2 separate regions of the Homo sapiens genome follow, and region 2 is linked to region 1. Evidence: fine-mapped QTL for protein levels in blood plasma. A gene starts in region 1. The other region holds a variant in brackets. All regions are shown on one strand. Distances are between the middles of the regions. Region 1 holds the start of CD109 (CD109 molecule). Region 2 overlaps CD109 (CD109 molecule).

The links. PIP is the posterior inclusion probability: the model's chance that the variant is causal. Protein levels are from the aptamer-based SomaScan assay of Sun 2018.
Region 2: its variant is fine-mapped to the plasma level of the CD109 protein (Sun 2018, PIP 0.95).

Annotation. Positions count from the first base shown.
Region 1 is chr6:73,682,222-73,697,556 of GRCh38, reverse strand. It overlaps CD109 (CD109 molecule), which reads right to left and starts at 1,354. Exons shown (of 33, transcript NM_133493.5): 1 at 1,268-1,354; 2 at 1-157. The coding sequence starts at 1,341. CD109-AS1 (CD109 antisense RNA 1) reads left to right here and starts at 1,426. Exons shown (of 2, transcript NR_110889.1): 1 at 1,426-1,725; 2 at 1,982-3,654. RefSeq lists a silencer at 1,185-1,234 and enhancers at 797-1,511, 1,465-1,724.
Region 2 is chr6:73,736,934-73,747,110 of GRCh38, reverse strand. All of the region lies in intron 5 of CD109 (CD109 molecule), which reads right to left. Among named protein-coding and RNA genes, the nearest start is that of CD109, 46 kb to the right of the region's middle. The variant C/G (reference allele first, on the strand shown) is at 5,559.

The DNA.
Region 1 (15,335 bases):
TTCTGCTTCCAGGACAGAGACAGTGAGGTTTGATGCTGTCTTGAGCAGCTCCGCCTTCACAGTCACCTGTGAAGGGCAGTGTTCCAGAAGCTCCACCCCAATAGTCACATTTCCTCCGGGCCTGATGATCCCTGGGGCTGTCACCAGAAACCGAGGCCTAAAGAGTTCCCAACAAGGGAAAAACAAAGTTTCTTATCCTCACATCTCCTTTCTTTTGTGACCCTCAGATTTCCTAGTGCGATAGGCACTCCATACTGCGCCAATTGCAGTTGTTTCCGTTAACATTGCCCACTGCTCTATTTGGCAACTGAATTGAAATGCTACTGAAACAACAATAATTCCCATAAATCAATTTTAATGCAGTAATTCATGCATCACTACTAGAGGAAGGCCTGTGTTATTATTTCCATTTTATAAACCACGAACCGCACAGAAGGAACCATGATGTAAATGGCTTGCACCGGGGCATAATGGAGTTATTGGCAAAGCAAAAGTCTCTAAGCTTCTCCTTTACAGAGGACCTTATCCCAGCGTGATTATTTTCTTGTTGTTGTTGTTATTTTTTAACTAAGATTTTGCCTGTTTCTTATTCAAACCTTTATCCTTGAGTAGCTGCCCAACGAGGGTAAAAAATTATTTAACCAATACCATTGATTGAAATATACCATTTGAAAATAAACTACAACTGGTGAAAATTCCAGGTATAGCGAATCATAAAAGAAGTCACTAAAGCAGCACTTTCTCTGCTATAACTAGGGGTTAGGGCTCAACTACAGAAATCTTTAGGAATGAATGGGGCTTGCCATTATTGGGTGCTGTTGTTTTCTTCCTATAATGTCTGCCCCTGAACCCATACATCAGTCCCCTCCGCCACACTTTGGCAATGCTAAGGTTGAGACATCTTGGTTAGAAAAAATATATCATGTCTTTGAGAGAAGAATCGCAATCTGGGAGCAAAAAGTTGAGAAGCAAAAGGCAGAGGCAATGTGGACTAAAAATAAAATGACTCTCTTCAGAAAGTTGTTATGGCCGGGGAGACGCTTAAACAACTTCATGAGTGGAGAAAGTTAACTGTCCCATGGAGAGCCACGCTGAAGCTACATATGGTCAAACCTCCAGGCCAGTACCAGGCTGGGGACTGCAGCCGCGAGGGCATTTCCCACCCGCTGCTGCACAGCAGCCGCCACCTCCCCGAAGCCCTGGCCCAGAGCCGCAGAGCGGCCCAGGCCCGCGCGCCCGCGCGCCCCCCGCGCGCCCACGTTCCTACCCGGGAGCCACGGCCAGCGCGGCGGTGCACACGCAGAGGAGGTGGGCGGCGGTCAGGAGCGGTGGGCCCTGCATCTCGACGGCGTCTGCCTGGGCTACAGTCCGCTGCCGGGGAAGTTCGCGGGCACCGTGGGGTGTGGCTTGCCACCTCCTCCCTGATTTTTTTTCCCTCTTAATTCGAGTTTAGTAATCTGAAATGGGCGCGCCTAACAGCAGAGTGAGAGATCTAAATTGAGACAGGACTTGGAGGCTCCACCCCTCCCATCCCCATTACAATGGCGCTTCTCGCTGCTGTGGCAAACATCGCAAATCCAGGGGGTGAGAAAGCAGTTGCTAAACGCAGGCGGCCCCACCTGGCCCGGCGTCCCAGCTGGCCGCGGAGAACAGAGCGCGCCCACTTCCCCGGCCCACCGGGTTCCTCAGGCTGTTTACACTAGCGCTCTACCAACGATGCCCAGGGTGAGTAAACAGGCCCATCCTTGTGAGGAGAAATTCATAGCAACTATGTGAAGTGGAAAAAAGTCAATCATTGTCCTCCAGACTATGAGTCAGAATTTTAGAGAAACGGCACACACACACACGCACACACACACGCACGCACACGCGCGCAAAACCGGGGCGTATTTCCTGGGTAGTTATTTAATGTATATGAATGGAAACAGAAAAACTATTTTTCCTTAAAACAAAAAATGAGGTCTACTGCTTTCCTTTCCAGGAAAATGTTATGATTTATCACCTTAAAAAAAAAAAGAAGAAGAGAACTCGCACTGCAGACGTTAGGTGTTGCTACTTGGAACCCTGAAAAAAAATTACCTAAGAAGATGCCTTTATATTTTTGCTACAGAAAGAATTTGGTAGAACTGTAAAGCTTGGAGCAATCTCTGAACACAGTTAGGGTTGGGTTGGCTCTCCTGTCAGAATGAAGGCCAGTGGCCGGTGGTGCCCAGGAGTTATTGATGCCCAACGCTGTCTGGCTTCTTTGCAGCTCCTCTCTCCTGCTCTCTGGCACTGCCACCATCTTCAGATGACTCAGGTTTCACCATGACTACACCATAAAAGCAGGGAACTGCCAGAAACTGTTGGAAAACAGACACATTCAGTCCCTGACAACTTAAACTTTCTAATTCATGGAGCGGTTTTAGATGGTAGCATTCTAATATGGGGCAAAATGCAAACGGAAAAGAGGTCAGCAAAAAGATGTCTCATGACAAAGCTATGTGCTAAATAAGGAAAAGTGAGAAAGTAGCACCTAGACAAACTGTGGTTTGGGGAATCCAGAAACTTGCTTTCCTCCCTTTCCTGTTCCACCCTTTTTCTCCCTGCTGAACAGCTTGCAAAGGTCCTTATGTCCTTTCCTTCAGGCAGCCTATCTTTAGTGGCCAACTTCCTGTGCAGGCAGGACTTAGGAATGGTCAAAAGTGTCTGTGTGGATCCCTGGGTGCTGACCTGTTCCTGACACAGCTGTTACTACTGGTCTCCTCACCTCCGTTGTTCAGAGAGGAGGACCATGGTCAAGGGTGGGCCAAGCACCAAGGTCTAACTCAGTGCTTCTCACATGCCAATGTGTGTGAGAATCACATGAAAACAGACTCTGACTTGGCAGGTCTGGAACGAGGACTGGGATTCTGCTTTACTTTAGCAGACAGTAGGCCATGGAGACTCTACAAGTGGGGGCAATTTGGGGGCAATTTGATGAGCAAAGGCAATTAAGAACACAGAAAATTCTTCTCAATCTTTCACTTCATAAAGGTGGATTAATAAATTCAGGTTCATTCTAGAGGTAGGCAAACATAAGAGGGACTGCAAAAGATTAGATGATAATGTTGCCTCCCGAGAAGACTTACAGAAAGTCTTAGAACCACATTGTATAAATCTGTGTGGATTTTAAAGTGATGCCACCTTCCTGTTTATGCCCTCCTTCCCACAATACACACTTGTCGAAAGGCGTAGTCATGCAAAAATTTAGGCATATGGATTTGCATAGAGATGAGGCTATTACATGCCTGGCACAGAGTAGCTATTCAATAAAAATGTGTTAAAAGGATTAATGAAAAATGTTCATCTCAGAAGTGGGATTTTTTATTAAGAAAAACTGAAAATGAGGCCAGGCGTGGTGGTTCACACCTGTAATCCCAGTAATTTGGGAGACCGAGGCGGGTGGATCACCTAAGGTCACGAGTTCGAGACCAACCTGACCAACATTGTGAAACCCCATCTCTACTAAAAATACAAAATTAGCCAAGTGTGGATGGTGGCACATGCCTGTAATCCGAGCTACTCAGGAGACTGAGGCAAGAGAATTGCTTGAACCTGGGCGTTGGAGGTTGCAGTGAGCCGAGATCGCAGAATTGCTCTCCAGCCTGGGCAACAAGAGCAAAACTCCGTCTCAAAAAAAAAAAGAAAAGAAAAGAAAGAAAAGAAAAAAGAAACACTGAAAATGGGCCGGGCATGGTGGCTTATGCCTGTAATCCCAACATTTTGGGAGGCTGAGGAAGGCAAATCACTTGAGGGCAGGAGTTCAAGACCAGCCTGGCCAAAATGGTGAAACCCTGTCTCTACTAAAAATACAAAAATTAGCCCAGCATGGTGGCACATACCTGTAATAAAAGCTACTCAGGAGGCTGTGGCATGACAATCACTTGAACCCAGGAGGTGGAGGCTGCAGTGAGCCAAGATGGTGCCACTGCACTCCAGTCTGGGTGACAGAGCAAGACTCTGTCTCAAAAGAAAAACTGAAAATGGTCTGAACATGTAACAATAAGATATTGGGTTTGCTGTCATTTGGATGTTTGTCGCCCAAAGCTGATGCTGAAATTTGATCCCCAGTGTTGGAGGTAGAGCACAATGTGAGATGTTTGGGTTCTGTGGGTGGATCCTCATGAATAGATGAATGTCCTCCCTGGGGGTCGGGGGGTGAGTGAGTACTCAGTTCCCACAAGAATTGGTTGTTAAAAAGAGCCTGGCACCTCCTGCTTCTCTTGTTTCCTCTCTCACCATGGGATCTCTGCACACTAGCTCCCCTTCCCCTTCCACATGAGTGGAAGCAGCCTGAGGACCTCACCAGAAGCCAAGCAAATGCCAATGTCATGCTTCTTGAACAGCCTGCAGAATTGTAAGCCAAGTAAACTTTTTTTTTTAATAAATTACCCAGCCTTGGGTACTACCTTATAGCAACACAAAACAGACAAAAACAGGATTAAATAAATTACAGTATATCCATGCAATGGAATACTGAAATAATTAAAAACTATTTGTTTAATTGGAGCTTGTTTAACCATCTAGAGACAAATATTCATATGTTATTAAGGAGGGTATATTAGTCTGTTCTCACCCTGCTAATAAAGACATACCTGAGACTGGGTAATTTATAAAGGAAAGAGATTTAATTGATTCACAGTTCCACATGGCTGGGAGGCCTCACAATTATGGTGGAAGGCGAATGTGGAGCAAAGTCAAGTCTTACATGGTGGCAGGCAAGAGAGCATATGTAGGGGAACTCCCCTTTATAAAACCATCATATTTCGTGAAATTTATTCACTATCACAAGAAAAGCATGGGAAAGACCCACCCCCAAAATTGAATTACATCCCACTGGGTCCCTCCCGTGACATGTGGGAATTATGAGAGCTGCAATTCAAGATGAGATTTGGGTGGGGACACAGCCAAACCATATCAGAGGGGAAGTCTGTTTTATAAAACAGAATTTAAATTTCATTTTATTTTTATAAAAAATAAAGTGTATTTATGTGTACATAGACATTACAGATCTATGCACTGAAGAAAGACTTGAAGGATATTCACCAAAATGCTATTATCAGTATCCTGGTGATTACCTGGATATGCCAAGTTTCCTACAATAAATATATATTATATCTCCTTTAAGAAGAAAACAATAATAATATTATTTTAGTAAATAGTTTTTGAGGGGGCATCTTAGAAGCTCTTTTGCATAAAACTTCTGAATTTTGATACCAAAAATATCATCTATGCTTATTGCATGAAAACCTAATGGTCTCTTGGATAAGAACCCCACACTGTTCCTGTGTCCCTCCTGAGCTGTCTTTAAGGTGTTGATATGGTTTGGATCTGTGTCCCTGCCCAGATCTTATGTCAAATCCCCAATTTCGGAGGTGGGGCCTGGTAGGAGGTGATTGAATCATGGGGGCAGATTTCCCCCGTGGTGCTGTTCTTGCGATAGTGAATCTTCATGAGATCTGGTTGTTTAAAAGTATGTGGCACCTCCCCCCACCTCTTTTGGTCCTTCTCCTGCCATGTAAGATACCACGAGCCCATACATCAGCCCCTTCTGCCATACTTTGGCAATGTTAAAGTTGAGACCATGAGTAAAAGCTCCCTGAGGCCTCCCTAGAAGCAGATGCTGACATGCTTCCTATATAGCCTGTGGAACTGTGAGCCAATTAAACTTCTTTTCTTTATAAGTTACCCAGTCTCAGGTGTTACTTTATAGCAATGCAAGAACAGAGTAATTCAATGAGAAAGGCAGAACCACTATGAGTGAGACAGACCCTAAGCAATCATGGGAGCTGGTAGGGCAGTTTGTGCAAACCATTGCCCCTGTGTGTGGTGTGCAGCATAACATAACTATGAGTCAGCCAGGGGAGAAAAGCTAAATGTGGGTAAGAATAAAGAAAAACTGATTGAGAAGTGGAACCCATGTCCATCTTACCACCTCCAACTTCCATGTCATGAGTAACCTGCAGGAGAAGCTGGTGTCCTTTGTCCAGAGCTTCATGTACATTTGGCCCACAATTCAGAAAAACTGAAGGAAGAGAGCCTCTGAGAACTAAAGGAGCTACAGGCCTGACTGTGGCCCTGAACCCACAAAGTGAACTGGCACATTAGTAACAGTATGGACAAGTGTTCCCAACTGCCTAGCACTCTAAACCAAGCTTCAGAAAGTAAAAAATACAGGTGTATGGGGTACCCCACCTCCCCTTTATAGTCTGCTCTGTCCATAACACCAGCTGGAGGCTTTCCTGGGGCCACCTGAGTCCAGGCCCCAATCAGATGGACATTGGAAGGGGTGAGACCAGGACTGGCAGGGAGCAGTTAGTTGCCTTTCTAGTCTCCCTCCCTAGCCATGCACTTTTGCCTTTAGAAAAATGATGGGGAAAACCTTGGCTCCTTCTTTGTCCAGAAAGTGTTAATTGCCTGTGGGTTCTGGTGGCCGGGGAGAAGAGCAGGAAAGCAGAGAGCAGGTGGGTGGCTGAAAGGGAAGAGGGGAGGAACACGGCAGAAACATGAAGGTGACCCTATCTATTCCCCTGGAGAAGGGGTGAGAGGTCAGGTAGAGTAGCTGCTCAGTACACAAAATGTAGAAAGATGATGAGAAAAAAAAATCTGCTACAGTCTTACCACTACCCAGAGACAAGCATTATTTCATTTTGTTGTGTTTCCTTCCTCTCTTTCTTTCTCCACATAATTTGCTGGTATCTTTTTTAAAGAGTAATTATGTTATAAATATAATACAACTTTGTGCTTTGTGTCCTACTTTTCCCATTTAATTATTCCATCATAAGCATTTCCTCATGTTTTACAAACCTTTTTTAAATAAAATGTTCATCAGCTGCAGCCGGGCACGGTGGCTCACGCCTGTAATCCCAGCACTTGGGAGGCCGAGGCGGGCAGATCACCTGAGGTCAGGAGTTTGAGACCAGCCTGACCAACATGGAGAAACCCCGTATCTACTAAAAATACAAAATTAGCAAGGCGTGGTGGCACATGCCTGTAATCCCAGCTACTCAGGAGGCTGAGGCAGGAGAATCTCTTGAACCTGGGAGGCGGAGGTTGCGGTGAGCCGAGATCACACCACTGCACTCCAGCCTGGACAACAAGAGCGAAACTCCGTCTCAAAAAAACAAACAAAAAAAATGTTTATCACCTGCATAATAAAACAAACAAAAGGAATAAAAACATTTTCAGAAATGGAATGGCTCAGAAACTTCGCCTTTCACAAATTCATTTTAGGAAGTTACTTTAGGAAGACATATTTAGCAACGAAGTGAAATAAGCCAAGAAAAAGGGAAATGTATATATAACCCCAGAAAAAAATGAAGAGAGAACTTCTAATAGGAAAAATTCCAGGAGTAAGCTCTTAAGGGAAATAAAAGGGATCTTAATCGAATAGATGTACATAATGAAATACAAGAAAACTGAGACTATGATAAAGTAAAATAGTGCAGTAAAAAGGAAGGGAATTTAGAAATTCAAGGGAAAAGCAAACACTGAATAAAAAAGAATATATCATGATTCATTAGTTGGCTTTGCAGTGAAAAATAATTAGTTGTGTTGATGTAAGTATGGTTTACTGATTTATAACAGAATAAAAGAATTGACAAAGAAGATTTAATTACACTGTTTCACCATTTCTAAAATATATGTTTTTCACATTTGTAACATTTCTGATCTTATAATCAATGGTATCATAATAATAATTGACAATAAATTTTCTTTCTTGGTATTAAAGTAAGTGGTGTATCTTAGATTTGATGAAATATGTGAAATACACAATGTTTACAAAACAATGTAAATGGTGTTAATACTTGAAAAGAGCACAGATGACAAAAACTTACAAAGTCAAAGAGGGATGAAGAATTAAAGCATTGACTGAGACACTAAGAGCCTTATAAAGTAAAAAAAAAAAATGTGTCTACAGTTTTCTTGGATCAAGAAATATGTCATAAGCATATTAAGACTATAAAGTAGTGTAAGGATATAAGAAAAACTGAACCAAAGTGGTTTTCCCACTTTTATACACTCAATATAACACACTGGCCACCAAAATGCATAGAAGAGCTTCTCCCATGCTGACCAAGCAATCAATTCTCTGGCAGATTCTACAGCAGACTCAGCTGAGCATCCTCTAAGTCAATTCAATCCCAACACAAACTACCTGGAAATAGCAGCAGATCCCCTAGGTTGAGGGTTCCTTCCCATAAGACTGCCCCCAACCTTAGATGCCAATCACAAACTCAGGTTGTGACCTGTGCTTCTGATCCAACAGCTATAAATTGGGGTTCCCACAATCCCATCCTTGGGTTTGGTTAATTTGCTAGAGCAGCTCACAGAACTCAGGGAAACTATGTTTCCCAGTTTATTAATAAAGGGTATAATAAATGACCTCTGCCAATTCTAGTTTGGAAGTTGAAAGATGTCGCCCAATGGAATAATTTATAAACTAATTAATTAATTAACAGAAGCAGCTGGGCTTGGTGGCTCATGCCTGTAATCCCAGCACTTTGGGAGGCCAAGGCAGGAGTACTGCTTGAGCTCAGGAGTTCGAGACCAGCCTGGGCAACATAGCAAAACCTTGTCTCTACTAAAAATCAAAAAAATTAGCCAGATGTGGTGGTGCGTGGCTGTAGTCCCAGCTACTTAGGAAGCTGAGGTAGGAAGATCACTTGAGTCTGGGAGATTGAGGCTGCAGTGAGCTTGATTACACCGCTGCACTCCAGCCTGAGTGACAGAAGGAGACCCTGTCTCAAAAAAAAAAAAAAAAAAAAAAAAAACAAAGAAAAACTCTCAGAACCCTATAATCCAGGAATTTTTATGGAAGCTTCATCAAGTAGAAATAATTATTAATGCCATTTCCAGCCCTTCTCCCCTCTCCAGAGGATGAGGGTGCACTAGAAGTTCCAGGCTTCTAATCATAGCTTGGTCTTTCTGGTGACCAGCCTCTATCCAGCAGCCTACCAAGAGTTACCTCATTAGTACAAAAGACTCTCTCATCGCACAGAAAATTCCAAGGGATTTAGGAGCTCTGTGTCAGATGCTAACACTTAGGAAATTACAAATGTCTTTGGAGCTCTGTGTCAGGAACCAGAGCAGAGACCAAATATTAGAACAAAAGATTCTCCTAGCACCCCTATCTAACAGAGTATTAAGAACTCTGTTTCAAGAACCAGAGCAGAAACCAAACATTAGAATGAAAGATTCTCCTAGCACTCCTATTGCTCAGGAAACTACAAGAGTTTTAAGAACTCTGTGCCAGGGACTGGGGGGCAGAGACCAATATGTGTATTTTTTATTGCACAACAGCCAATTAGAAATTAAAATACTAATATATTATCATAAATAGTAAAAGCAAAGGTATGTTTTCCAAAAAAAATCTACCAGACAAAAAGAAATCACAATTAATTTGAGTTCTTACAAAGTTTCTAGTGTTCTTCTAGTGCATGATTTTAATTACTATATTTTGAACAGCAAAGTACTATCTGGGGAAGATACATTAATCTGAGATGACATCTGCCAATGCCAGTTGGGAGTTTCTCACCTAATGGGACAATTTGTAAACTTATTAATCTATTAATAAGCAAAGAAACAACCTCAAAATCACACCAACAATAAACTTTTGCTTCAGATCCCAAGTTTGCAGGCCAGCTGAGGCAGTTCCCACTTTGTGTTTCTCCTTTTCCTTGGAACAGTAGTCTGGGAAAAGCACGTCCTTCTTGCGGTCATGGTAGAAGCACAAGAGAACAAGCCCCACTGCTCAAGCACATTTTAGGTCCCTGTTTACTTGACATCTGTGAAGATCCTGTTGCCCAGAGCAAGTTTCATGGTCAAGGACCAAGTCAAGGATGGGTAGAATACTCCACCTTTTGGTTAGAGGAACTGCAAACTTAATTATGTGGGAAAGGATATGGATGGGAGAAAATTGGGACAAATAATTCAATCTACCACAGACAGTTAGCAAAATTTGCCAAAAGCTGTGTTCTGTTCATCAAGACAATGTTTCCATGAAGGACAATTAGCCTATCAAGGAAGGAAGGAAAGAAGGGGAGGAGAGGGAAGGAGAGGGGAGGGGAGGGTAGGGAAGGGGAGGGGGAAAGGAAGAAGGGAAGAGAGAGAGCATGCATGTGAAAGAAGGAAGGAAGGAGAGAGAGGAGAAAGAGAAAGAAAGAGGAAGGAAAGAAAGACTGAAGGGAGGAAGGAGTATCCAATGTCTAAAATCATGCATGGTTTTTTTTAGTTATTCACTTTTGGAGGATGCTGCAATATGAACTCATTAAAGGTAAAGAATTAACCTTTATCCTGCCTTTCCTACGTGAACTGATCACTGGGTAACCAAATAGTAGATATGAGGGATTTCTCTCTATAGTTTTCCAACTAATAAATGTAAAATTAATGTTAGAATAGCACCATATCACTACTCTTTGTGAATTAATAGATCTAGACCAATGCTGTCCAATAGAACTTTCTGTGATGATGGAAATGTTCTGTATCTTATACAGTAGCTATAACCAACATGAATTTATTTAGCATTTGAAATGTGACTGATAGGCCAGGTGCAGTGGCTCACATCTATAATCCCAACACTTTGGGAGACCCAGGCGGGTGGATCACTTGAGGTCAGGAGTTCAACACCAGCCTGGCCAACATGGTGAAACCACATCTCTACTAAAAATACAAAAATTAGCTGGGCATGGCAGCAGGCACCTGTAATCCCAGCTACTCAGGAGGCTGAGGCAGAAGAATCACTTGAACCCGGGAGGCGGAGTTTGCAGTGAGCTGAGATTGTGCCACTACATTCCAGCCTGGGCAACACAGAAAGACTCTGTCTCAAAAAAAGAAAGAAAGAGAGAGGACTGATATAACTGAGAAATTGAATTTTTAATTTAATTTAATTTAATTTATATTTTTAAGTAGCCACATGTGGCTAATAGCTACCACATTGGATTGTATAGACTCAGCAGTGATCATAAATGGCTGCTAATATCACAAAGGGAGATATTCAGATACTATATGCCGCCCAGTAGAACAAAGCACCACCTAAGAAGTGGTCTTGCCAAAAATTCTAAACTGAATCTGATTAAATTTCTAGATTTAAATGCCAATTTGCAAGGAAATGTGAAGGAACGTATTAAACATCACACAGATGTATTAGCAAAATTCAGACTGTGCAAAACACTATCAAACAAATAATCCAATTCCTTCAACAAATAAATTTCAAGGAAAAATAGAGAGGACATCAACAAGATGCTGGAATAGGAGTTTCCAGGGCTCATCCCCTCAGAGACACATCAATTTGAACAGCCATCCACACACAAGAGTACCTTCACCAGTGCTGAGGACTCCAGGTGAGAGATTACAGCACCTAGTTGGAGCACAGAAACAATAAAAGACACATTGAAGAAGGTAGGAAAGACAGTTTCACATTACTCAAGTTACCCCTTTCCCAAGCCTACTCAGCACAGCATAGCACAGAGAGAGAAAAGCCCACAGCTAATATCATGCAAAATGGTCAAAAGCTGAAAGCTTATCCTTTAAGATCAGGAATAAGACAAGAATGCATACTCTCATCACCTTCACTCCATATAGTACTACAAGTCCTAGCCAGAGCAATTAGCAAAGAAAAAGAAATACAAAGACATCCAAATCAGAAAGGAAATAGTAAAATTGTCTCTGTTTGCAAAGATGACATGATCTTATATATTTTCAGAAACCTGATGTAACTCAGGAATGGAAAACCAAATACTGTATGTTTTCACCTATAAGTGAAAGCTAAGCTATGAGGATGCAAAGGGATAAGAATGATATAATGGACTTTGGGGACTTGAGGGGATGGACAACAGAGGGTAAGGGATAAAAGACTACATATTGGATACAGTGTGTGCACTGCTTGTATGACAAAATCTCAGAATTATCACCACTAAAGAACTTATTCATGTGACCAAAAACCGCCTGTACCCCAAAAACTATTGAAATAAAATTTTTTAAAAATTGTTTAATTTTTTTAAACCCTAAGGATTCCATACAAAAAAAAAGTTAGAACTAATAAATTCATTGATGTTGTATGATACAAAATCCACAAACATTGATCTAGACAATGTTTTTTTGCATATAACACCAAAAGCACAGGCAACAAAAGCAAAAATAGACAACTGGGATTGCATCAAACTAAAAAGCTTCTGGAAAAAAAAATCATCAGAGTAAACAGACAACCTATTGAATAGGAGAAAATATTTGCAAACCATATATCTAGTTAGTAAGGGGCTTATATCCAGAATATATAAGGAACTCAAACTACTCAATAACAAGAAAACAACCCAATAAAGAAATGGACAAAGCAGGCTAGGCACAGTGGCTCATGCCTATAATCCCAGCACTTTGGGAGGCTGAGGCGGGTGGATCATGAGGGCAAGAGATCAAGACCATCCTGGCCAACACAGTGAAACCCCGTCTCCACTAAAAAATGCAAAAATTAGCTGTGCCTGTAGTCCCAGCTACTCGGGAGGCTGAGGCAGGAAAATCACTTGAACCTGGGAGGTGGAGGTTGCAGTGAGCCAAGATCATGCCACTACACTCCATCCTTTTGAGATTCCACCTCAAAAAAAAAAAAAGAAAAAAAAATGGGCAAAGCAAGAATTTGAGACCACATAGGCAAAATAGTAGGACTTTTGTCTGTACCAAAAATAAAACTAAAAAGACTAGCCAGACATGGTAGCGTGGTCCCAGCTACTCAGGAGGCTGAGGCAAGAGGATCACTTGAGCCCAGGAGTTTGAGGTTACCGTGAGCTATGATTGTACCACTGCACTCCAGCCCAGGTGACAGAGTAAGATCCTGTCTCTAAAAAAGAGGGGAAGGGGGAGGAATTGAGTAAACATTTCTCAAAAGAAGACATATAAAATGGCCAACAGGTACATGAAAAAATGTTCAATACCACTAATCATCAGGGAAATGCAAATCAATACCAAAGAGATATCACCTTATACCTGTTAAAATGGATATCATCAAAAAAAGACAAAAGTTGGCCAGGTGCAGTGGCTCACACCCATAATCCCAGCACTTTGGGAGGCTGAGGCAGGTGAATCGCTTGAGCCCAGGACTTTGAGACCAGCCTGAACAACATGGCAAAACCTCATCTCCCCAAAAAAATACAAAAATTAGCCAGGAGTGGTGGCACTCAGCTGTAGTCCCAGCTACTTGGGAGATTGAAGTGGGAGGATCATCTGAGCCTGAGAAGCCAAGCTTGCAATGAGCCAAGACTGCATCACTGCACTCCAGCCTGGGTGACAGAGCAAGACCCTGTCTCAAAAAAAAAAAAAAAAGAAAGAACGACAAAAGAAAAGAGAAAACAATACAGAGGCTCCTCAAAAAATTAAAAATAGAACTACTGTATGATCCAGCAATCACATTTCTCAATATATATCAAAAACAACTGAAATTAGTATCAAAGAGAGATCCATACTCCCATGTTCATTGCACCATTGTTCACAATAGCCAAGCTATGATATCAATCTAAATGCCCATCAACAGATAAATAGTGATATGGTTTGGCTGTGTCCCCACCCAAATCTCATCTTGAATTGTAACTCCCACAGTTTCCAAGTGTCATGGGAGGAACCTAGTGGGAGGTAATTGAATCATGGGAGCAGGTCTTTCCCATGCTGTTCTAATGATAGTGAATAAATCTCATGAGATCTGGTGGTTTTAAAAATGGGAGTTCCACTGCACAAGCTCTCTCTCTTTGCCTGCTGCCATCCATGTAAGATGTGACTTGCTCCTCCTTGCCTTCCACCATGATTATGAGGCTTCCCCAACCACATGGAACTGTAAGTCCATTAAACCTCTTTCTTTTGTAAATTGCCCAGTCTCGGGTATGTCTTTATCAGCAGTGTGAAAACGGACTAATACAGTAAATTGGTACCAGTAGAGTGGGCACTGCTGAAAAGGTACCCAAAAATGTTGAAGTGACTTTGGAAATGGGTAACAGGCAGAGGTCAGAACAGTTTGGAGGGCTCAGAAGAAGACAGGAAAATGTGGGAACGTTTGGAACTTCCTAGAGACTTGTTGAATGGCTTTGACCAAAATATTGATAGTGATATGCACAATGAAATCCAGGCTGAGGTGGTCTCAGACTGAGATGAGGAGCTTGTTGGGAACTGGAGCAAAGGTGATTCTCGTTATGTTTTGGCAAAGAGACTGGTGGCATTTTGTCCCTGCCCTAGAGATTTCTGGAAATTTGAACTAGAGAGAGATGATTTAGGGTATCTGGTGGAAGAAATTTCTAAGCAGCAAAGCATTCAAGAGGTGACTTGGGTGCTGTTAAAGGCTTTCAGTTTCAAAAGCGATACAGAGCATAGAAGTTTGGAAAATGTGCAGCCTGACAATGCAATAGAAAAGCAAATCCCATTTTCTGAGGAGAAATTCAAACCAGCTGCAGAAATTTGCATAAGTAATGAGGAGCTGAATGTTAATCACCAAGACAATGGGGAAAATGTCTCCAGGGCATGTCAGAGAACTTTGCAGCAGCCCCTCCCATCACAGGCCTGGAAGCTTAGGAGGAAAAAGTGATTTCATGGGCTGGGCCCAGGGTCCCTGTGCTGTGTGCAGCCTAGGGACTTGGTGCCCTGTGTCCCAGCCACTCTAGCAGTGGCTAAAAGGGGCCAATGTAGAGCTCGGGCCGTGGTTTCAGAGGGTGCAAGCCTCAGCCTTGGCAGCTTCCATGTGGTGTTCAGCCTGCAGGTGCACAGAAGTCAAGAATTAAGGCTTGGGAAAGATTTCAGAAGATGTATAAAAATGCCTGGATGCCCAGGCAGAAGTTTGCTGTAGGGGTAGTGTCCTCATGGAGAACCTCTGCTAGGGCAAGAACCTCTGAAGGGAAATGGGGGATGGGAGCCCCCACACAGATTCCCTACTGGGTCACTGCCTAGTGGAGCTGTGAGAAGAGGGCCACGTCCTCCAGACCCCAGAATGGTAGATCCACCCACAGCTTGCACTGTGTGCCTGGAAAAGCTGCAGACACTCAACATCATCCAGTGAAAGCAGCCAAGAGGAAGGCTGTACCCTGCAAAGCCACAGGAGCGGAACTGCCCAAGACCATGGGAACCCACCTCTTTCATCAGCATGACCTGGATGTGAGACATGGAGTCAAAGGAAATCATTCTGAACTTTTAAGATTTGACTGCCCCACTAGATTTTGGACTTGCATGGGACGTGTAGCCCCTTTGTTTTGGCCAATTTCTCCAATTTGGAATGGCTGTATTTACCCAATGCCTGTACCTCCATTGTATCTAGGAAGCAACTAACCTGCTTTTGATTTTACAGG
Region 2 (10,177 bases), 52 kb before region 1:
GGGATATTGGTCTTAGATGTGAAGAATAGGACCTTTCCTCTAAAAAGAAGAGAATAAGCATGAGATGGGCACAGGCAACACATGCAAATCTGGCAGAAAAAGTGAAAGAAATTCCCATCTGATGACTGTGTTCTCTGTGAAGTGGAAAGGAAGATAATCTACTGAGTGTGAGGAGGGAGGAATCAGAACCTCCCCAGGAGACAGTTTTGTTCCTGGATCCCTTCTCTCATTAGAAAGGATTACAAATATTCTGGTTCTTATCAAGGCTGGAACTAAACACCTGAAGAACTGAAGCTGGTCTATACCTGACAGTCACTCATAGTGACAGGACTTGGGAATAATGGATCTAACCAATGACCAAGACATAGACCATACAAGCCTCCAGTTAGCAGAATAGTGGCCAGGTATCCAGGGATCACAAGCACATTCATACTCCTAAAACAGTGTTACCATCTGCAGTACAAATACATTATGCAGTACAAGGGACAAACTTGTTTCCTTGGTGTTGAAAAAAAAAAAGTACTAACTAGAAACATATTCTCTTTAAAAACAAACAATAAACAAAAATCACCCATTTAACCCTCTCTGTTCCTACTCAAAGTAGAAGGAACTATGGTTTTTAAAGACATGTAACATGACCACCTTTCTTGGGCACCTATCTCAAGCAAGGGAGCAAAAGCAGCAGCATAGCTACAGGTTTGTACTGAATAGGAAAGTTACCCTTGAGGGAAAATAACTCCATTTCTTGCTCTTTCTCCCTTTCCTCACTCCACCCAGGGACTTGGTACTCATTTCAGTGCCCCCTTCCCCCTCACCCAGGGCTGCCACCACTGGTCAGAGCCCAGTGAGTTATCATTTTCCAAAACTCCCTCTATGCCACTGAAAATAAAGCATCATACAGAACCATACACACATACCACACAAACGTCAAATTCTTGCTTTTTATATTGTACTATAATAACATAAGATATAACCACTGGGTGCACTGCGTTAAGATAATATAGGGCCGCTTTGTGCTATCTTCGCAACTTTCTGTGAATCTACCTAAAGGTAAACAGTTATTTTTAAAATTAATCTTCTTGGCTGAGCACAGTGGCTTATGCCTATAATCCCAGCCCTTTGGAAGGCAGAGGCAGGCGGATCACTTGAGGTCAGAAGTTCAAGACCAGCCTGGCCAATGTGGCGAAACCTTGTCTCTACTAAAAATACAAAAATTTAGCCAGGCGTGGTGGTGGATGCCTGTAATCCCAGTTACTCGGGAGGCTGAGGCAGGTGAATCGCTTGAACCTGGGAGGCGGAGGTTACAGTAAGCCAAGATTGTGCCACTGCACTCCAGCCTGGGTGACACAGCGAGACTCTGTCTCAAAAACAAACAACAAAAAATTAATCTTTGTAAGCCTCATATGACCAAGGTTATAGAGGCTGTGAGGTGACAGCAGCCTAATCCTTAATAGTATATTAATGGATATTAAATAGATGAACCAAGTAACCTACATGCTGGACTCAAATCTTCAATCTAAACACATGGCTGCTGTGGTCAGAATCTGGGACACGTTGGGAACAATCCAACGTGCAAACAAGGTGATCCCGTGGCATCCACAAGTCATATAAAAGAAGTAGGTATCTTCTCCACCAATGCATACAGCAAGCCCTGTTGACATCTAAATTCAACCTTAAAAGGAGGCCATATTAAAACAGCAATTGCTGGCCAGGCATGATGACTCATGCCTGTAATCCCAGCACTTTGGGAGGCCAGGGCGGGCGGATCACCTGAGGTCAAGAGTTCAAGACCAGCCTGGCCAACATGGTGAAACCCTGTCTCTACTAAAAATACAAAAATTAGCCAGGCCCATGGTGGCACATGCCTGTAAATCCCAGCTACTCAGGAGGCTAAGGCAGGAGAATCACTTGAACCTGGGAGGCAGAAGTTGCAGTAAGCTGAGACAGCACCACTGCACTCCAGCCTGGGTGACAGAGCAAGACTCTGTCTCAAAAATAAATAAATAAATAAAACAGCAATTGCTGCACATATTAAATAATTTAATTTTACAGAACTGAAAGTATGAGTAAACTAGTTGCTAGTCCTGACCCTCCCACAACACACTGTGTGAGCCTAACCAGGTCACGTCACTTATCTCAGATTCTTCCTCCATAAAGTGGGGAGATGGATCTAGGCGACCTCTAAGATCATCTATAGCACTGAGTCCCTATCCTATGTACTGATGATGCTACATACTCAGACCCTCCATTTCATTGATGAACACAACATCCTAAAGTCTGGCCCCAAAGTTTTCTAACTGATGCCAAAAACATGTCTCTTCAGAGAGGGGTACAGAAGACACATTTGAAAGGAGGGGTCCTCCTAGGGTGGCTTCTGTAGAGAAAGAACAAAACAAAGAACTCCTCATGAAAATTTGCATATGGGGCCTAGAAATTAAAATGCACACTGCCAAAGGACTGGCACTAGCAGATCAAATGGCTGAATAAAGACACAAGAATAATATGGCACCAAAATTATAAGTCTATTTTAGACTTTATAACAAACTAGAATATTCAGCTCTTGCCTGAGATTTTTTTTAATTTTCAAAATGAGAAAGTCCAGGGCATTAATCCAAAAGTCCTGTTTTCCATTAGCTCACAGGTTCATCAAATACAGCAACCATATATATTCTCAAAATGAAAATATACAAAGATATTTCTACTAAGTTGCAAGATGATATAGCAGAGTGAGACTAGAAGTCAAAGAACATCACAAAGGATAATAACAGCAATCATCTAGAAGAAGCTCTATTCACTCATTCTTTCATCCCACAAGCATGAATGAGTTCCCATAACAGGTCAGATATTATATTAGACAGAACAAATATGAAAATTAATAAAATAGAATTCCTGTCTTCAAGGAGTTCACAGTTTAAGAAATGAGGCAGACATTTTTTTAAATATCTGAAGATAATAATAGGTTCTGGAGATGGATGGTGGCAGATGGTTGCACCACAATGTGAATGCACCTGATGCTACTTAACTTTTAAATTGTTAAAATGGTAAATTTTACATATATATCTTACCACAGTTTTTAAAAAACGAAAATAACGCTACACTGATTAATAAATGCTATTCTAGAGGTGTTTATCGGGGCCTTTGGAAGAATGGAGGAGAAAGTGCTGAGCTCTGCCAGATAATGCTCTAAGAAATCAATATTCTAAAACCATCTCCTCCCTCCCTTTCTCACTGAACAAGGAAGTAAGAGTTTGAGATCCTTCCCAAACAAAGCATTCTTCTTATAAGCAAAGACTAGTGAAAGTATTTTGGAAGCCACAACCACATTTCAGAGAGAATGCCACTGTTTTCTGACCTGTCAAAGTTTTGCTCCATGCTTTCTGTTAAGTTGTCGTCACAAGCCAGGCGGGTTAAGCAGATGCTCCTGGTAGAGTGCTTTAGGGACAAGAACTGTCCAAACAAAGATGTGCTCTTTTGCAAAAGAAAAACGGCTCCAGAGATACTTAACAGAAGCAGCAAGCTGACCCAGGCAGAGGCTGGACAACAAGTCCAGAAAAAATAAGGAATATCCTGAAAGGTTATAAAAAGCAGTAAGGTGTTGGCAACCCTCACCTAATCTAGAAAAAACAAGTAACTCAAGAGAAACTAGATATAACTGTTAGATGCAAAGAAATAACTCAATGCAGATTGCTTCTGAGTTACATAATAATTTGATAACCCGTTTCATTATACAGGGCTCCAGAAGAGTGACTTCAAGCCTTAACCCTGTTGAGTTTTCTGCTTGCTATTTCTTGTTCCCCACCTCTAACAATGGCTTAAGATTGAGACAACGGTTACGAAATTGTAGTTAGTGACAGATAGAAAAGATGATTATCAAGTTCAGTGGTTCCCAAGCTGGCTGTGCATCTGAAGCATCAGAGAAGCTGTTGTAAAGGATATACATTGTCCCAGAAATTCTGACTTAGTATGTCTAAGGTGCTGGGGAGCTCTACTGAGCTGATTACCTAAAAAGGTAAAGTAAATAGCAGAAAGTAGCACTGCTGAGGAATTCAAAGAATAAATCAGATGGCCTGTCCCCAGTTCCATACCTTGTTGACTGCCCAACACTGCCCAACACTGCCTCTCAATGGAAAAGATGGATTCTAAAGATGCCTAGCTGCGGGCATTTATGAGCACTTCTCAAAATGTGGTTCAAAAAACTAGTAGAATTTCCTTGAGTGCTTATTTAAAATTCAAACTCCTAGCTCCCATGCCAAAATTAGTAAATTGTGATCTGGGGGTGGGACCTGGACTATGCATCTTTAAACAAGCTCCCAGTCCATTGATTCTGTGGCACACTGATGTTTCAGAACCAGCTGCAGCCTCAGGTGGCCATTATGGTAAACTCAAATGCCTAAGCCACTCTAGAAAGAAGAAGAGACTTCCATCTGACAATGAGGAAAGACAGCACAGGGCTGCCGTCATCAAATGACCAGGAATCTCTCAGTGACTCAGGCTCTTCTTTCGGGCTCTTGGAGGAACATGAGCACCAGTGCGTGGGTCACGCAAAGACCTGGAGCTCTGGGCTGCAGGCTGCACTGCTCTGGCCAGATGCCTCCTGGCTCCCAGAAGCCTGGTTCTCAGACACCAACATTAGCCTTTCTTTTAAAGAACCCCTAAAATCACCTTCTAATAACCTCGAATATAATTTTTAAATCATAGATGCAAAAACATTCGCAACCAAATGTGGTATATTCACACAATGGAATATTATTCAGCCTTTAAAAGAGAGAAAATTCTGATATATGCTACAACATGGGTGAGCCATAATAACATTATGCTAAGAGAAAAAAGCCAGTCTCAAAAAGAGATCCTGTATGATTCTGCTGATATAAGACTAATCAACACCACAGAGATAGAATGTACAGTGGCTGCCAGGGGCTGGGGGGTGGGAGGGAATGGAGAGTTATTGTTTAATAGGTGTAGATTTTCAGTTTTGCAAGATGAAAAGAGTTACAGAGATGGATGGTGGTGATGAATGCACAACAATATTAATGTACTTAATACCACTGAACTGTACACTTAAAAATGGTTACAATGGCAAATTTTACGTTATGTGTATTTTACTACAGAAAATAAAAAATGGAGGGAAAAACCATTTGCAGGCCAGGCACAGTGGCTCATGCCTGTAATCCTAGCACTTTGGAAACCCAAGGCAAGTGAATCACCTGAGGTCAGGAGTTCGAGCCCAGCCTGACCAACATGGTGAAACCCCATCTCTACTAAAAATACAAAAATTAGCTGAACATGATGGTGCACACCTGTAATCCCAGCTACTCAGGAGGCTGAGGCAGGAAAATCACTTCAACCTGGGAGGTGGAGGTTGCAATGAGCTGAGATTGCACACTGCACTCCAGACTGGTCAACAGAGTGAGACTCTTTCTCAAAAAACAAAACAAAACAAAACAAAAAAACCATGTGCAATTATTTGAGAAAACTGTCAACACCAATCAAGAGATAACATACCTAGAGATAAGGTACCTAGAGAACTATATTGCAAAGAAATGAAAATAAAGGAATGT[C/G]TAACTTTTAAAACACATTATCTTCCTAAGGTGTATTTTCAAGTCAATTATTAAATCAGAACATATTCCCACACTCAACTTATAATGTACCTAAAGTATAACGGCCCTATAAAACACACTTCTATGAAAAGATGTTACAGCTAAAATATACCTCTGCCCTCTGAGAGGAGGGCTTGGTGCTCTAGACAAAGAAATGATGAAAAAGAGCAGGGCAATCAAAGTATGGCAGAAGTAGAAGACTTGGTCACATTCTCAAGAGAAGAAGTACAATCCCCAAAGTAGCAAAGAACTATTCACACTAGAATATGTGTGTCAATTAAGCACACGTATAAGTAGCACAAAAAGAGCCAGGGCTCTTACTAAACTTTACTGATTTTAAGAGGTCTTAAACATTATAATCATCAAGAGTTTCTTTGCAATTTGATTAAACTAGCATTGTAAAAAAAAAAAAAGTCTATGTATATATTGAGAACTTATGATGTCCCACCATCATATGCTGAACAATGACAGAGATAAAACATAAGATGGAAAACCAAGGTGGCAGGGTAGAGAGAACCTTGGATTTGGTGTCAAAAGGCCTGAGTTCTAATCCTAGTTTGGTAAGTTGTGGGACATTGGGCAAATCACTTAACTAATCCCCCAAAACATTTGTTTCCTTTCTTGGCCAGGCACAGTGGCTCATGCCTGTAATCCCAGCACTTTGGGAGGCCGAGTAGGGTGCATCACTTGAGGTCTGGAGTTCAAGACCACCCTGGCCAACATGATGAAACCGTCTCTACTAAAAATACAAAAATTAGCTGGGCATGGTGGTGCATGCCTGTAATCCCAGCTACTCAGGAGGCTGAGGCAGGAGAATCGCTTGAACCTGGGATGTGGAGGTTTCAGTGAGCCGAGATCACACCACGGCCTGGGCAAAAGAGCGAGACTCTGTCTCGAAAAAAAAAAAAAAGAAAGAAAGAAAAGAAAACTAGAAATCATACTAGACCAAAATAATTACTCACCATTACTATCATAAAAAACCTTGAAGGTGAAAAGCAATACAATACTTGAAGGGCAAACAATTTAGATTAATCCAGAAAGGTTAACACGGTATCATAAAGGACTTATTCACTCTTACTCTACAAACAAACATGTTATTAATACAAGTGGAGAAATGCCAAGGAGCCGTCAAGTATGTTTTACTTAAAGGATCCTTTTCCTGACCTAGGACAAAGGGTAACTGAAGAATACCACTTTCTGATTACCTGTATAGTCATTACAAATCAAAGCTCTGATAACTCCGGTAATTCTTAAAGAGATTGTCCATCAGTGGGAATACTCATATCATTCCATATTTTTTCTACAGACAAAATGGAATTTCAAAACTCTCCCAAAGGCTGTGTATGATGGCTCACACATGTAATCCCAGCACTTTGTGAGGCCAAGGCAGAAGGATTGCTTGAGTCCAGGAGCTCAAGATCAGCCTGGGCAACATAACAAGACCCTGTCTCTATGAAAAGGAAAAAAAAATTTTTTAACTAGGCAGGCGTAGTGGCACATACCTGTAGTCCCTGCTACTCAGGAGGCTGAGGCAGGAGGATCACTTGAGCCCAGGAGTTCGAGGCTGCAGTGAACTATGATTGTGCCACTTCACTCTAGCCTGAGTGACAGACGACAACCCTGTCTCTTACAAATTAAAAAATTTAAAAAATACTTCCTTTTTTTTTAGCCAGAGTATCACTCTGTCGCCCAGGCTGGAGAGCGGTGGCATGATCTTGGCTCACTGCAAGCTCCGCCTCCCAGGTTCACGCCATTCTCCTGCCTCAGCCTCCCGAGTAGCTGGGACTACAGGCGCCCGCCACCACACCCAGCTAATTTTTCGTATTTTTAGTAGAGACGGGGTTTCACTGTATTAGCCAAGATGGTCTCGGTCTCCTGACCTCGTGATCCGCCCGCCTCGGCTTCCCAAAGTGCTGGGATTACAGGTGTGAGCCACCACGCCCAGCCAATACTTTCTTGAAAATAAATATTTTCCTTCCCTGAGTTTTATATTGAGAATGGTGACTGCCACCGAAAAGTAAAAATATAGTCTCTAATGGTGGGCTATTTAAATAATAAATACATTTCCTCTATGTTATTATTCACTACTAAAAGAAAAGGGGTTTAATAACAAGAAATATACAGTCCTTTAATGCTGCGCAGTAGTCAAAGAAAAACAAAAGCCAGAGACCAAGGCCACAGTTGCTTCTCATAACATTTCCTTGGTTATACTGACCCCTGGTGGTTCTAAAAGGGCTCTTTTTTTTAAGGGGCTTATTTTTTCTTAGCTGAATGCCTCAAATTAACATACCTCAAATGACAAGTACCTGATCAGTATACTTGTCTTCAAAAAGATAAAGATGCTTTATAGAATATACAAAAGGGAAAATTGCATTTGGTTCAAGACAAATTATTGCTATATAGTTTTCACACATTCGTTTTAAGAAAATACTGCTTTCTACTTACATGCAAAAGCACTGAACTTGGTCCCAGGAATAGAGAGGTGAGCAAGACCAGAAGGTCACCAGCTTTACAAAGGCTACTGTCTATCATGGACCACTAATTAAAAGTGAGATGAATGAATTAAGGGAAGCACACAGTACTATGGGAATGTCTGGAACAGCCAGGCCACTTTAGAGAATGGCTGCAGGTTAAAAGCAAGTAGCGAGAATAAGGAAGAAAAAACATTCTCAGCAGAGGGAACAGCATGATGAAAGGCTCTAGAATGAGACAGATCGGTGAGTTTAAGAAACTTAAGGGACATAAGATGTCTAAAGCATAGAGTTCAAGAGGAAGGGCGGCACTTTACAAGACTGAAAAGTTGGGCAAGGGCCAGATCCTGCAAATGCTTTTCATTTTTTAAGCACCTAAATTTCCTTAAGAGCATTTGTTTTCTATAAAAGCAATATGACAAGCCAAGTCCACAAACCACAACATGATAAATCCTATAAATCTTTCAAAGTATAATCTCACATCTTCTGCAAAGTCTCCCTCTGCTATTCTATCCCCCTCTCTTCTGGTACTTATTCTGTCCACCATTCAATGAACAAATTAATCCCTCAGCGCCTGTTATCCAGCTAAAACTGCTCTTGCTGGTCATTGTGCATAGGTGGCATCTGAATGGACCAAAAATGGACACCTTGACCCAGGGCGGCCCACCCACAGGCTGCCAGCCACCTGTGCAGAGGCTTGCTTTAAAGATTCTGGGCATGATGGTTATTTAGCTAAGCTAATGGAATCAGAAGAACTGAAGAACACCTCAAAGGTTGGCAGAAGAGTGAAAGGAGAACAGAGCAGACCATGGGAGACAGAAGGAGCAGCTGGCCCCAAAACATCAGTGCTTGTGCTAACAATAAACCCTCTTTATCACCAAGCTGGACTGAACACCTTACAATTCCTCTGCTATTGCACTGCCCTGTGTTTGTCTGTCCCCCTTATGTCATTTAATTTTTATCATATTGTTCATGTCACCATGACAATGACCTTTGAAAATGGAGGTCATATGTTTACCTTCTTTGTATTCATCACAGCCATAAAGTCCTTAACACATACTGGGTTGGTGGGTGGGTGGGTGGATAGAAGGATCGATGGATGGATGGACCAAAAAAAGTGATTCTTAAGAATTTAAGTGGGAACTGAAAATAATATTCAAACTACTTTAAACTCACAACGTGCTTCCTAATCTACACCGCCATCATTCTCCACATGCTCCAGTAACATCAACTTCTCCCAAATCCCCAGACACATAACGTTCTCTTCCATTTTCCCTACTCCCACACAAATTTTTCCCTATTTTCTAAGTTTCACAAATGCCTACTCTTTCCACTTTCTCTACAAGCTCAGATATAAAGAATTCCACTTCCCCTAGAACTCATCACATCCTGCTCTAGGCTGCCATTTATAACAGTGGTTATTATTACACTGTTATAAGTAAGGAAATAAGCAAAGACCTCACTGAAAATTGTCCATGACTTTAATGGTTATGCATTACATTGTTCTCTAACAGTATGAGCCCCTTTCATAATATTGCCTCAAATGTTCTTTAAAACCACATCATACATTCATTCGGTAGAGCTTCTGCTACCTTAAAAAGAATAATATTGGTAAACACATCATACAAACACCCATAAAGATGCAGGGTGGCCATGAAGCAAATATTGAGAGTCCATTGTGCCTCCAGCACTGTTCTCATTCATACAGGTCAATTCACACACGAGTCCCACCTACTCAAGGCTCAGCAACAATGCTTAGAATAAGCTACAATTTCATGCATTTCATATTACATATCTTCCCCTTTAGATACAGAAAAAGTTGATTATATCTTATATGTTTATATGTCACATAAATATAGAAAAATATAAAGGTTTACATGTTATATACTAAATGACCAATTTATATCACATAAAACAGTTAAGTCTCATTGCTTTTTAAAATTGTTTCCATCCCATTGTGTTTATGTCTCATTCATTCCAATGAATGCCCCCCATTTAGATTTATATGCCATTTAATGCCCTCCATTTAGATTTCAGAGCTATACAAGTTGGCAGCAAGTAAAGGCAATAGGTGTAGAAGCTAGGGAAAAAGGATTGGGGAATAGCAGT